Linked DNA regions of Homo sapiens. The protein of the gene in region 2 interacts with the protein of the main gene of each other region in a pairwise test. Each region holds a gene or a part of one and is shown on either strand. Other genes may lie near its edges.

Region 1 (7,900 bases), on a different chromosome or scaffold from region 2:
GAAATTACATAGAGAAAAATTCTAAATATAAGTAATAGCAATTTTCTCCCTTCAGGTAAGAAATAAGACTTGCATTTGTGATATCAAAAATCACCTGAGAAATGAAAAGCAACCCAAAAGTACCCAGGAGGCCCATTTACTTACTGATGACAACTGTGCCATTCCCAGGAATATCTTGGTCGGCTGGGTAAGAAATCTGATGTCCCTTGGTTTTTCACTCTTTGGGGAAATCTGAGCAGCACCCTGTGATCATAATCTCTGACATCTGCCCTGTATGCTGTACTGTGATTTTGAAAAAAGAAAAATTATTATATTCATGGAATATTAACTAAAGACAAAACTACAAATAAAACATCCATTATATAGTAGTGACAATCCTCCTTTCCCAACTAGACTATCAGTTCCAAGAGTCTAAGGCATTTTGTTTCTTTTTGTTCATTGCTGAATCCAAAGCTCCTAGAACCGTCTTGGAGTAGTCAGAGCTCAATGAATATTTGGTGAATAAGTGAATGAATAACACCTATGGAAATCCACAGATCTTAACAGTAAAAACATAATAAGCATTAAAAATCTAAATGTCAGAAGTAAACTTTAGAATCAATTCAAGTTTGATCATATGAATGAGTGAAACTGAAGTGGAAATAATCCCCCAATAAAAAAAATAATTCATAGATGTTTATTACAAACTTCAAACTTAACAAAACTTTTAAAAAAGTTAATGAGCTGCAAACTGAGGAAATAACTCTAAAAGAGCATACCCAGATTTAAATTAATAATTTTGTAACTTCACTATCCCAAAACAATGGCAGTACTGTAAAAACATCATAGGGAGTTCAATGGTGTGAGTGATGCAAGACTCAGGAATGAAAATGAGCTTGGATTTCTTCACTTCCTTTAGCCTGACAATTATAAAGGGTCAAAGTGGAAGAAATGTACAAATAAACATCACTGTGTTCCTACTAATATATTTAGTGTGTCTATATGTTCAGGTGGTATTGATGACCTTATTTTACACTTTAAATTTTTATTAAAACATCTTTTGCTCCCTCTGCTGTTTCCCAGCAGTAAACCCAGAGAACCCCAATCCCAGAGTTACTATTTTATTTTAGAATAGTGGAAAAACAAAGCTCTTGCTCACGGTCTTATTCTGGCTGAAGTAATACCAAAACAACCAAGTTCATCGTGGTCTCAAACAAAAGAGGAAAACTTAGTCTTTACCAATGAGGCTACGATGGCAAATTTGCCCCGAATCTTTTAAGGGGGTATTAACACACCCTTCCATTACAATAAATTTTTTGAATTACTGTATAGTTGTTTTATGAAAAGTGATTGGAACAATTGACTCCCAAGTTTAAGTATCTTGGAAAAAGAGCATGAGACTTTCAGTCTCCAGGATAAGGGTTTCCTCCACCTCTGTGATTCCTGCTGCACTTTGAGACAGAACCCACAGAAATCTTCAAAAATATTAACTCTCCGTCCAGGTCAGCATGCCCAGGAGGTCACGTCCCACTTCCCAGCTCTTGTCCCACTTCCTAACACTTGTCTGCGCGAAGCAGTAGCAGTCAGAACCAGGCACCAGAGCGCCCCCTGAAGGTAGACCGGGGAGCGGGGCCTCAGACATATCAGCCCGTACCTGGCCAGACAGTTTTCCTCCGCCGCGCATCTCAGGTTGTACATGGACATCTTCTGCACGTACGTGGACGCCTGGATGTAGTAGGGGTCGGCCACCAGGTCTGGGAGACCTAAACGTCAGCAGGCGACGGGCGCAGCAGTGAAACAACCCGGCGCCCCCCGCTCCAACTCCCTACCCCTCTAGGTCCCTTACTCCTCACCCTTCGCCCACCGGGACTGCAGAGTGGAGCGGAGGACAGCAAGAGAACTGGGGACGCCCGGGACTGCAAAGCAATGTGAAAAGGAAGCAGGAGGGGCCAGACGCGCGGTTTGCACTGGATTCCAGGGCTGCCACTGCAGGCGCGTGGGGGAGGGATCGGATCTGCGAGGACCGGGGCCCGCCGCGCCCAGGCAGCCACGTCGAGAAGCCACATAGCTGGGGACCAGGTGCACGGGTGCTTCCAGCGGACTTGGGGGTACTTACCGTACTGGAAGTAGCCAGTGCCGTATCCGGGCCGGTACCTGCCCCCAGGTCTGGGCCTTTCATAAGTATCGTAGTAGTTGTAATAAGGGTTGTCGTCAGAGTACTTGTAGGGGTTGTAAGGGTCGTCGCCCACCATGCCGTCCACGCGGCTGGGCGGCCGCAGGTTACTGAGCGCAGGAACTTCTCCCGGCGCTGTCTGGTTCTCCGCGCGCGAGGCGCCAGCTTCGCGGGCTCTAGATGTCGAGTAGCCAGCTTGGAACCAGTGACGGGCGGTGGGCCTGGGGCGGCCAGCGGTGACTCCAGATGAGCCGGCCGTCCGCGTTCGCGCCGCGGCGGTGCGGTTGTCGCGGATCAGCAGGATCGGAGTGCGGGGCTGCTGGGCGGAGGCGTTGGCTGCACCAGGGACGGCGGCGCCCGGGTCCCGGCGGCGCTGAGGCTGGTACTGTGAGCCCAGGCTCAGCAAGCTGAACACCTGCCCGTTGTTCTCCCATTGGATCTGCTGGCGCCAGGCGCCCGGAGCCGCCGGCGGCTCGCGCGGGGGCTGCTGTTGGCCGGCGGCGGGAGGGGCGCAGTGCACTAGCGCGCAGAGCTGCAAAGGCCCGAGCAGGAGCACGGTCCAGGCGAAGCGCATCACTCCTTTTGCCAGATTGACCCCGCTCGAGGAGGACGTGGCTCACAGAAAATAAAAACGGGGCTCAAATCACGTGAGGGAAGGAGAAATCTTCAACCAAGGAGGCGAGCGGAGCACGGGTATCTCAGTCTCCACCAAGCAATGCCAAGGGTGGGATTCAGACCCTTCCCCAGTCAAGGCGGCTGCTCGGACGTGGCACCCTTCCCTTTCCCCTTTCTCAGTCCTGGAAGGCAACGGGGAGCGGCGCGGCAGTCCCGGAGAGCGGGCAGTGTCTGGAGTGAAGGAAGGAGGAGAGATTTTAAACTTTCTGGCACGTTTGCAAAGTTACACAAGCCGTTCTGGCCCGGCCGCCCCTCAGCTATTTGTTCACGTAATGCGATTGGAAACGTGCAAGGCGGACAGCTCCTCGCCTCTGCCCCTCCCTCTCTCCCGTCCCTGCCCTCCTCCCCCCAGACACGTTGCACAGGGAGCGTTAAGGGGAAAGAACAAAACGGAACACACATCCTGAGACACACTGGCTTAATCTGGGGCGAACATGCAGGAATTTCAAAAAACTCAGACAGGCGAAGGCAGCCAGGCCATGGGGCGACGCCAAAATATGCACGAAGAAAAATGCTATTAGGTCACCAGCCCTTGAGAGGCGGGAAGTCGGGAGGTTGGGAGGGTGCTGGGGGTGAGAGGGGGGCGGGGGAGGATTGTGACTAAAGTTTATCCATAAAAGAGTTAACCAGACACATTTCCCAACGCACACTCTCTCGCTTTTATGGGAAGCGCCCTCAGCAAATAAACCCCAGGATATCAAATTTTGTTTTTCTGTGTGTAGGTAATATGAGAAATGGGTTACAAATTTATTTCCTACAGTGAATATTTTAATAACCAAAAGTGAAATTGTACAGGGAACAAAGCCAGCTAACGCTGCAGCTATGAATAAACCTGTCTCTTTTTCAAAATGCCGGCCTGATTTGTACTTTGAGTAGAAGTGGAGAACCATCTTTCATCTCCACAGTGTCTACAAGGAAGATTCATTAAAGACTAGAACAAGTCTGCATGAGAAAGCACTCAGAAGGCATCTTCACATATGCATTTTATAAGACATTTTTCTCCTTCATCTTATAAAGAAGTTTGACTTTGGATTTAAAAAAAAATTAAATCACCTCTGTTAAATACTGAAAGTCAGTAAAACATCGCATGCTGTTTAATTTATCTTCCAATCTAAACAAAGAAGTTGCTGAAGAAACAGCCTTAGAGTTTAGATTTTGGTAAAGAGAAGGAAGTAGGAGTGGTCAGAAAAGAATATAGGTGGGGGATAAATTATGCTGACTGGAAAGAGATACATAATGGACGAGTTATTCATATACCACTCAGGGTTTGGGCAGTGCTAGAAACTTTGCAACAAAAAATGGTTACTAAATGGTCTGATTTAACACTACTACTCAAAACCAGATTTTGGTAACCATTTTATTGGTCTCATCATTGGGCTATTGTCCAGACATACTTCAATATTCACATACCTCTGTTAGTCTCTGTCTCTCCATATTTAATCACCACATTTTGGTGGTGTGGTGGACCTCTGCTGATTTTGACTGCCTCACATCCATTTTCCTTTTCTTTCTAGTAAGAACAACCGGATTTTCCTTTGAGGGGCTTCCCACCCACCCCACTCAGTTGCATAGTGGAAGGACTGAGCATTTATGAGACTTACCCACTTCAAGAAGTGGTCATGAGATCCAGGTTTGGCCAATCAAGCCATCTCTCTAGATGGTTTAATTTTATCTGGGATCTGAATCTTGAGCAGAAGGACACTGTCAAAAATGTTGCTCCTCAAACTACTAAAGAAAGTGCCCAGGCCTGGCGCAGTGGCTCACACCTGTAATCCTAGCACTTTGGGAGGCCAAGGCGGGCGGATCATTATCATTCGAGGTCAGGAGTTCGAGACCAGCCTGGCCAACATGGCAAAACCCCATCTCTACTAAAAATACAAACAAACAAACAAACAAACAAAAAATTAGCTGGGCATGGTGGCACATGTCTGTAATCCCAAACTACTCTGGAGGCTGAGGCTGGAGAATTGCTTGAGCCCGGAGAATTCCTTAAGCCCAGGAGGCAGAGGTTACAGTGAGCGGAGATCCACCACTGCACTCCAACTTGGGCAACAGAGTGAGACTCCATCTAAAAAACAAACAAACAAATGAAAAAGTGCCCATTATGTCTTGCTACATGGATCCGTCCCCTGCCCCGTCACCCAAGCTACTTTAGGTGAGTACATTCTAAGACCTGGTTCTTCAGCATTTCCTTCTTTCTTTCTTACTCCCCGACCCACCCCCCCATCCCCCCCATACATTCCTTTGTGACTGAACATGGTCAGAGTCAATTTCTGTTGTTTTCCACCTAAGAAGGCTGACTGACACTGAGCAGGGTGTGGCTGCTTCTGTCACCTAATCAGTTCACATTATTCTCAGTTCAGGGTGATGGGTTTGGTTCAGTTTGAGTCAAGTTAGATTTCCCCTGCCCATGACTGCACAGCATCCTTGGTCACAGGGAAATATCACATGGAAGCTCGCCAATGTGTTGGCAAATCTATTACTTACATGATAATTTGCACTTGAAGATGAACATTCAAATGCAATTCCCACTGATGGCAAGTCAACAGTGACATCTCACTCTCCCTATAAGGGTCAGAGACATCCCTAGCTGTCATTTTACAGACTTGCTGCAGTGCTTAAAATTAAACTACTCAACTCCTCCAAACCCACTAAGAAAGATGGAGTGAAAAAGAAGAAACAGGTGTATAGATTATAATTTCAATGGACAGGCCAAATTACAGGAGAAGCAGGAAACGAAAGAATGTAATTATCCCTCATCTGAAAAAGGCTCTGCATGTGCCCATGAACAGCTTATTCCCTAGACTAGAGAAGTCTGAAACTGCTATTACTTGACCACAGGTTCCTGAGGGAAGACCTCTGCTATGCCAGACATAGTGTCAGAATGGCAGACCAAAGCAGCACCCCTAATGGGAGGGTAGAAAGTTTACACTGGATCCCAGATAAAATGCCCTGTTTCCAATCCTAGTGCTCCAATAAAAAAAAAAAAAGCTGTGTCTCTTTGGACAGTTTGTTTACTATCTCTGGCTTTTGTTATATTTAGGATTCAAGGATTAACCAAATTCTTTCTAAAGTATTTTTCCTAGTTTTAAAATCTCTGATTTTTGTGAATATTCAAGTTATTCCAATTACTTTCGATTCATTGATAATAATGTGTTCATTATGATTATTAATATTTAATCAAATTTTTTTAGTTGGAGTTTAAAACATTGGATGCATTTTGTGTGAGTTAGAATCTGCAGACTGCAATTTTCTTATTCTACATATTTTCCAATAGTGAAAGTCAATACATATTTATTTGTTTTACAAACATTTCTTGAACACATATATATGTTCCGAAGTGTAGTATACCATAATGGTGACTTGCACACGTGAGCACTAAAAGTTTAGAGCTGAATGAAGTTGATCCTTTTTTCCAGATTTGCTCCAACAGACTTTAAAATTCTTATCAGAGTATAAATAACTGACTAGAGCAGTAATGATGTGCAATATTTATTTTCTTAAAACATGTACACACTACCAAAAGAGAAAAACACACTACCCTTTGTCACACATGCTAATGAAAAGCTTAGTTGATTTTCACTCTCCTTCATTTCCTCTAAAATCTCTCTGGCTTAGGACTCTGTCAGCTGAAAAACAAACATGTGGCTACCACATTTGGGGACAATACAGTGTTTGCAAGCCCTGCGGGAGATAATCTAGCCACACATTGTGTTCCCTGTTCAATAACAAAACTATTATTCACAAAATTGGAGAAACCATAGTTCCTTTCCACTCAAATCTGAGATGATAATGATGATGACAATAATAATAATAAGCCACGGCTACATCAAGATACAAACAGCTTTTTTTGCTTTGATAAGATCCACAGCTGATTTCACTTTTGACCATGAGATTTTCTTCTCGTGAACAATTCTGCAGTATGTGCCATAAGAGAAGGGAAGGAATGTTGCTAATTCTTTTTTTGAGTTTCTAGCCCATCAATATCAAATCTTTAAATGGCAATGTCTGGCCCATTGGCCAAGAAATGAAAGTTGTTGTAATGCTATGTTCCTGGTATTTGTTAAATACATTTATTTTTGTAGGACATTTCACATAAATGGAAAACAGAAAGCCGAAACCATAAAGCAGGGCCTCTGAATTGCAGAAGCCAGAACAGTAATGCCACATTCAAAGCAATCAGGTTCAAGTGTAAATTCTTTTGTTTGAGGCTCAAGAAGCTCATACAAAGCTTGTTTTTTGGTAAAGAGTAATGGTTGTATGTGCTTTGGTTCCATGTGGTTTGAAAACAAAACAGCACAGAGAATAAAATTTAAAAAGTGGAAAGTTGGAGATGTGTAAGGGGAAAATGATTGAGAAAACAGAATACCATATAACACAAAGGAGAATACACTCTGAGTGTTGAATTAGGACATTGAGGATACTTAAAAAGTAATTAAGAAATGTAACAGAGTGAAATACAGAACTAGAAATCTTTTTACTTGGAGTGAAATGGAGGAGAGGAGTAAGTTAGCCTTAAAGTTAACAGTGTGCTTGTGTTCCCTTCTACTACTTATCCTAGCCTTCTGCCACATACCACTTCCAGGTATTCACCCAAATATAAAAAGTAGACAGTTGGGTACACACTTGTCTGTGTGTCAAGACCAAACTGAAAAAAAAAAAGTATAAACAAACTGAGTAGAAGAATTCCAGAAATAATAACTTTTAAATGTATCTGGCTTGGTTACCCATTCCTTTGGGCCACCTAAGGAATGGAAAAGTGGAGTTTAACTCTAAGGAATAGAAAAGTATTTCATTCTGGTGTCCTTAATGCATGTTCACGTGTGATGAAGTAAAGAATGTTAGTTACTGAAACAAAATGGGAAAATGAGAAGAGGTGATATGATAGGAGAATGGGTCTTTGAAGTACAGGGGATCAGAGTTCAAAGTAATTAGTTCTATTAACAATAAAAATAAGGGTTCACCGGGAGGCGAAGCTTGCAGTGAGCCGAGATTGCGCCACTGCACTCCAGCCTGGGTGACAGAGCCAGACTCCGTCTCAAAAAAAAAAAAAAAAAAAAAAAAAAGGGTTCA
Region 2 (7,392 bases):
AATTAATAATTTAATTCAAAATACATTTACATATTAATATTGCAAACAAATCACCCTGCTGATCCCTGCCATACTTTTGACCTGCATAATTTCTAGGTCATTAAAATATTCTTAAAAAAATATAATTGGTCCTTAATTAGGTAATTCAATTCTATAAACTTGTTTCTCTATTTGTTAATTATTGCTATTGATCCATGAAGTGATACTAATAATTGTTTCCTACTTTTTCTTTTTTTTTTCTACAGCTTTACAAGAGGTGAGTAAAACTTTTTTTAGAATTTTTAAAAATACTTTGATTCCCTTGGCTACAGTGATGTCTTCTCTTGGAAGGGAAGAAGTTACATTAATATTGACCATCCTAGATTCCCAAGAAAATTGTGAAGAATTATGATAGTCAAAACCTTTCTGGCTGCCTTAGAAAGTACCCACCCAATTTTCCAAAATAGGCGGGGCTACTGAATAAGACTAGGTTTATAAAATATTCATAAGAAATATAGAGTAAATAATCCAATAGAAGTTTGAGTTTTAGGATCAGCTTCTATGAAGCAGAAGATTTCACTGAGCTAGAGAATCTTTTCACTCCTTTGGAATTATTTGCAAAAGCACTTATTGTTAACACATTCTTAGCTCATGAGTTGAATTTGAGGCATAAGTACAGGTACGTATTGCTATGTATTTTTTGTTCTGTAGGTACATATTTTTATTTGACATGTTGGTAAAATTTTAAATTGTAGTTTGAAATATTAAACTGAGATAATAGTAAATGCATAATGTAATGAATTGTGAAGGTATATTTGTATACTACACCAAAATGGAAGCTGTTTTTAAATATATATATACAATTTTCTTCATAATAATCTTTGATTTATTCTTTTCTAGGAAACTGTAAGAAAGGTAAGAGTACACTACTTCTCCATAAATATCTAAAATTATCAGGGATAACATAATTTAACTAAATTTATAGTAGACTATAGAAGGAAAATACTTTATCAAAATTTTGTTCATATGAATATACATTAGCTAAAGCATAAAATAAAGTAGCTTTGATGTTTAAGATAACAAAGTTTAATTATCTTCTGGAATCATCTGTAATTACATTTATGTGATACAAACTGGTGATTTACATACAAAAGGAAAAAAAAAGACTTGTTTTTATTCTGGAGATGGAAGGCATATTATGTTAATTATAGGGAGTAAAAAAAGTTTATTTTAAAGGGCTTTGACTATATAAATGTGCTGTTAAAAATGTAACAAAATGATCATTTAATCTACAGTTATCATCTTATTCAAAATGCTATGCATAGTATTGACCTAATAGCTGAAGACTATAGCAGCTTCCAATCCTCCAGCTGAAAAAAAATTACGTATAATTACAATTAAAATATATACTTTTATCTATTGCATTGTGTCAATTTTTTATATGCTATCTAATAACATTGTAGTTACATCAGTCTTACCAACTAATTATTATCAAGAATGATTTGTTTGTTCACTGGAAATTACTTCTTAGGCATTTATTATTGTCCTGTTTGTATCTTTCCTGTAGGGCCCAGCCGGAGATAGAGGACCACGTGGAGAAAGGGTGTGTAATTTTTGAACTATAAAGGGCTTCGTCCCGTATTTGAATAACTATATGTTAGAAACTACAGGAACTGGCAATTTATAAGAATATTATGTATCCAGATAATTGTACACCCCTTTAAACAGGTAATGCACTGCAGAAGAAGCGAATGAGCATTATTATATATGATCAATATTTGTTTTAGGTCAAAATTACCGTTAAAAAAGAAAAACTGTTACAGTCATATTCTTTGCATGGTCTACTTTCTTTATTTGTAATTGACCCATCCAACACATGCATAATGGAAATATATCTACCTACCACCACAGTCCTCTTTTTAACACATTTCATTTGCTTTTGAACTAAGATCCCTTAGGTAGCTTGGAAATAATAGTGAATTAGTAGTCAGTAACATGTTTCTCTGCTCAAATTCATGCATGTACAAGTCAGGCTTACATTTTATTTGTGGCATTCTTAAATCTCCCTGCTATGCTTATTTGACATTTATAACTATGTGGTTTTGCATTGTATAACACTTTTGCCAATATATGAATACCTATATCTTATATCTATTAGGAAGAGGAGACTTACATGTATTTCACTCAATTTATTAGAAATAGAATTAAATCAGTTAATTATTTTAACAATACAAGTAGTTAATGATAGTAAATCTGCAGGATTTTCTCTCCTATGATAAAGTGACCTTATTAACTGTCACATCAGTTAATTCATTCACATGTAACATACCAAAACAATTGAATCAGTTTGTCACAGTCAGAGATCGGCAATAAAAATACGATGTAAGTCCTTGTGCACTGTTAAACATATGAAGCACGTGGAACCATACATTTTGGCTATAATTTTTATATTTGAATACTGGAGCTTCAGTATGAATTAATATTCAATGGCCGAGATAGTTCTTTAGGAAAACTACCCTGTGATATCTTAAGAGTTATTAACCCTCTTTCTAAAATAGACTCATAAGTGAATTTCAATCAATGACAAATATAGTATATTAAATTTCCACCCTACTTGCACATAGAAAGGTCTGAACAACTGATCTTACCACATATAATTCTTAGGTTTCTACAGGGCCTGTCTAACCTGACCTTACTCACTTTTTACATAACAGGGTCCACCAGGCCCCCCAGGCAGAGATGGTGAAGATGGTCCCACAGGCCCTCCTGGTCCACCTGGTCCTCCTGGCCCCCCTGGTCTCGGTGGGGTAAGGTGTCTTACGTATTGCTAACTTTTAGCTAACTTCAGTTGAAAGAAGGTTTATTGTGGAATTTATTTTTAGCAGTTAAGGGATAATTCTTCCATTTGAAAATTAGTATATTTTATTTCATTTATTTGGTTTTTTCACTCAAGATTCTGCTTTACCCATTCTCTTTGTGAGCCCTTGTCAATTACAGGACTGGTCTTTGTGTGCACTGAAGTTAGCTGTGGCCATCATTACCATTATTTAATTTGGAGATTTAATATCTTTTATTAGTAAGGCACAAATAAGAGGTGTTGCATTATTAAGGATTTTGATTAGATTGAACTGTGTAAGTGAAATCCCTGATCTTAAGCAATTTTACAAACATCCTACGCTTTTTATTCTCCTTGACTTGAAGTCTGCTGAACCAACATTCAAAGCGGTTTTAGGTTTAATTTGCTTGAAACTAATTTGAGAAAAGTACATTTCCCTTTTTCATTAATATCTTCTTTTAGCTTCATGTCTTTAACAATGGTATGAGTGCCAAATGACCTCACTGCAGGAAGGAAAACATATTTGCTTAATTGGTTAGCACTATGAATCAGAAGCCTGATTCTAATACCCAACTGTATGTCAGTAAAATAAGACCTTTCTCCCCCAAAGATCTTATTATGATTGCTTATCTATGAATTGCATTAAAAAGCAGCTTCTTTAATAGAGCTACCACTATAAGAGAGATCTTTAACAGTAAAGTTATTACTGTGAACTAGTTTTTAGAAGTTTTATCTTCCAAGGGGTATTTTAATTTAATTTTCCTCTAAACTTGAAAACTCTTTATGCCCTTCCTGAAACTCCAGCAAGAAAAAGATCTCTTAGTCATTTTGTGTAGCTCCGGTGGGGAAGGGCAACAGGTGAAAATGTGAAGATGTCCTCTTGAGCTCTGTCTAATTTGTCAGGAGCCCTTAGTAACATTAAAAGTTTAGAAAGCTTCCCTTCCTCAGAGTAGAGGTAAAAGGTGGGAGTGGAGACACCGAGTTAAGGCAGAGGAAGGGCTCAAAAAGTAAAGTAGGGAAGTTCTCCATTTCAAAGAGGTGTCGGCCAAGTTTTTGACGTACAGCTCTCATAACTTTTTAGGAATTTAGTTCAATATAGAATTTTAAACTAATAATTATATCAAAAACATTGCCCTCTTTTAAATAACAACAGAAAAATATTTACAAGTAGAATGAGAAAATGAACTACATGACTAGTAACTAAAAATATTTTATATATATATATAATTTTTTTTTTTTACTTCTCTAGAACTTTGCTGCTCAGTATGATGGAAAAGGAGTTGGACTTGGCCCTGGACCAATGGTATGCTTATCTGTTTATCTTAGCCAAAAAAATTGCTAAATAAATCATTCATTTTATGTCACATTTTACCACGCCATTTATTTAGCTACCTAAGTTAACACTCAATACTTAGATTATATAAAAACAACTCTTTTTGTTTTCAAATTTATGAAAACATAAGTTAAGGAGTTCACTTTTCTTTACAAAAGAAAGATTAATTGATCTTTTATGATTATATGATCTTTTTGATTATATGATCCTCATTAAGATAGATCATATACTTATGTCCAAGAAATAATCTTTGGACATAGTAACCATAACTTGGGCAAATCAATTTAATTTAAAACAGTAATCACTCTGATTAATTTTTTAATATTCTTTAACATTGCTTAGAATTTTAAGCAACACTTAGAGGCATAGAACTATTTATTAAGTTCTCTGAACTTGTTGGAAAGGATCAACAAGTTCTATCTAGTCCAGCTAACTCATTTTAAAATGGGAGAGTTTAAGCCCTTTTCTCAAAGTCATCCAGGTAACTAATGACATAACTAGAACTAGATGCCAGGCAAGATGTCTAATATTTGCTTACATCATGGTTTATGTACCTAGTCCTTGAATAAACCACTCATTTAGTCAACAGATATTAATCAGATGCCTTCAATGGGCCCTAAACTGTATTAGGAACTGGGGAAATTACAAGGAATATGACAGATTCTGATCCTTCCTCAAGGAGTTAACAATATAGGAAATGTTTCTTTTTCTGAATTTTGACCAAAAAAATCCTTTTTTAGTCTATTGATTGTAAATCTATATAGAAGAGAGTATGAGTAAAAATCTAGCATTTATGTCACTCAGTACAAATATTCAGCACCATACCCTATCAGTGGAGCACCGCTTAGAAACATTCCCTATATGATGATGATGATGATGATGACTATTAACAAATGAAGCTTCTAACAAGCATTAGAGAGAAGTTTGAAGGGAAAAATGCTAATACGAGCATGCAAAATGTATACTAGCATATATGAAATAGAGGGGAAAACTGCCAGAAGTCAAAGTGTTAGGTTGATTAAGCACTACAGAATTTAATGTATACACACACACGCAATTTAGTGATTTTAATTAATTGTTTCAAAACAAAGGTATTTATCTGCCCAAAGTCAACAAGGTCTTTAAAATGTAAATTTTACCTGGGCAGTGCACTTAGTGCTCTATCTTCAAAAGAAGATGTTCTGCTGGAGCTAATGGCCCACAGTAAGCTAATATACTCTAAGGGTGAGATAATATTTTCTGTAAATTAAAACTCCCACTTGAGAAATAATGTACCTTTAATTGACGACTTCTAATTCCCTAATTTTTTCTGGTAGTTTAAAATGTTCATATCTGAAATGAAAAAGTAGAGTGTTTCTTTTGGCTTTGTTTATATTGGATTTTTGAAATTAGCTGTTTCAGCTAATGCTGGACATTAGTCAGTTTTAAAGCAGTACCTACATCTCAAGAAGAAGCAAGGGGGCGGAAAGTAAAGAGCTACTAAATGTCATTTTTAAAAAGCCCACTAAGCTGGGAAAATTAATATGGATTTCAGATACCCCTGTTTTCGGAACATCTGTCTTGGCATAAAGCAGAGTATTTTACTTTGAAATATCAGTGAAATATAATTTAAGCTTGCACATCCACACACATGCACAGACATATGTAATCAACAGATATCTGTTTCACAAATAGGGAAGATAGGCAGCAATAAAGTATTAAAATAATTTCCATGTTGGAAAATCAATAACTATAAAACCCCACAGGGTTCTTCTCTGAATTAATGAGTAATCACAGCCTCCATGAAATACACTACATTTTATGTAAATGAAATTGTTGCAAATACATGAAAAAATAAATATAATTAGAAATTCATGATGTCAAAGAAAATTATTTTTTAATGTATGCCTAAAAAGCTATTGTGATGGAAAAGTGACAGTTTCTTTTAATGTCAGAGCAATTTCTAAAACCAAATGAATAATTCTTATAATTAAAATGACATACATTTTAGATAAAATCCATGTTATTTCACTCTAGGCATTAATACAGTAAGGTAGGTTTGACTGCAGAGTCCCCACAGCTGATGTCATGAACAAATTACTTGAGACTGGTACATGAAATATTTTCAGCATTATGAGGAACAGACCCTACGGATGAGCTTACACAGGCACTGATTACTGCAAAGAGGAGTCAAGAAAGTGTATTTAGCTTACAAACTATTAACAGCCTGTTTTACCCTACTTTTGTGCTATGGAAACAACAAAGGGGAAAACAATCTTCCATCATTTGGGCCATATTTTCAACAATAATATCATATAATAGACTCTTCCAGAAGGCTGTTTCAATAATGTTTTATTTTTCCTTCACCCCTCATTACATCCACTTTTGTTTGACATTTTCATCAGTCACCAATAACCCTTAGAGGAGCGATAAGGTTATAACAAACTTCTCTCTAATCATTAAGAAGGACTTTTGATTCTTTTCAATTTATGTCCTTTGTGGCAATAAAAATACCAATTTCTTAGCTAAATATGACATAGGAAGATGACATATGATCAAAGATATCCAAATGGACATGCTTCATCTGCTGTATAGAAGACAATTGTATATTCTGCACTTCTGCAAAGACTGATTCACTTCATTGCATCAGAACAATCTCAATATGCCCAATTGTGCACAACTTTAAGGAACCTATCTGCCCCGTCTAATTCTCATTGATTTCTGTTGATAAGGATTGGGAGAAAAGGAAAAGCAAAGGGAGAGAACTAGTGCAGGAAGTTTGAGTCCTTAAATTCTTCCTTGGGAGGAATAAAAACTATGGAATCAAACCACAACAATGGCACTGCTAAGTTGGTCATATCTGACCCCAGCCAACACCATGACAACTTATCAGTGCTAACTGTTGATATATCTGCTTTCTTTACAGGGCTTAATGGGACCTAGAGGCCCACCTGGTGCAGCTGGAGCCCCAGTAAGTACTGAAAGCTTGTAATGCCTCTTATGTAAAAAGACAGAGAATTAAGAAATAAAGGCTTGGAGTATGACATTCTTTTTTTCTTTTAGGGCCCTCAAGGTTTCCAAGGACCTGCTGGTGAGCCTGGTGAACCTGGTCAAACTGTGAGTACATTTTTCCACCTTTGTGATAAGTTTTTTTCCAGGAAGTTTATGAATATAACCTTAGTGAAATGATGGGTCTCCCATTTTCTTAGGGTCCTGCAGGTGCTCGTGGTCCAGCTGGCCCTCCTGGCAAGGCTGGTGAAGATGT

The links. Proteins that work in one complex are often made in the same cells at the same time.
Region 1: the proteins of COL1A2 (region 2) and LOX interact in a two-hybrid assay, tested with the Homo sapiens proteins (one study listed by IntAct).

The regions. Positions count from the first base shown.
Region 1 is NC_000005.10:122,075,260-122,083,159, forward strand, and holds the start of LOX (protein-lysine 6-oxidase isoform 1 preproprotein), read right to left. Parts: upstream 3,001-7,900; 5' UTR 2,727-3,000; coding exon 2,096-2,726; exon of another isoform or gene 1,743-2,095; coding exon 1,634-1,742; exon of another isoform or gene 283-1,633; coding exon 145-282; exon of another isoform or gene 67-144; coding exon of another isoform or gene 56-66; intron 1-55. UniProt on the Homo sapiens protein: Responsible for the post-translational oxidative deamination of peptidyl lysine residues in precursors to fibrous collagen and elastin. Regulator of Ras expression. May play a role in tumor suppression. Plays a role in the aortic wall architecture.
Region 2 is NC_000007.14:94,397,503-94,404,894, forward strand, and holds part of COL1A2 (collagen alpha-2(I) chain precursor), read left to right. Parts: intron 1-245; coding exon 246-256; intron 257-879; coding exon 880-894; intron 895-1,546; coding exon 1,547-1,582; intron 1,583-2,693; coding exon 2,694-2,786; intron 2,787-4,064; coding exon 4,065-4,118; intron 4,119-7,053; coding exon 7,054-7,098; intron 7,099-7,190; coding exon 7,191-7,244; intron 7,245-7,336; coding exon 7,337-7,390; intron 7,391-7,392. UniProt on the Homo sapiens protein: Type I collagen is a member of group I collagen (fibrillar forming collagen).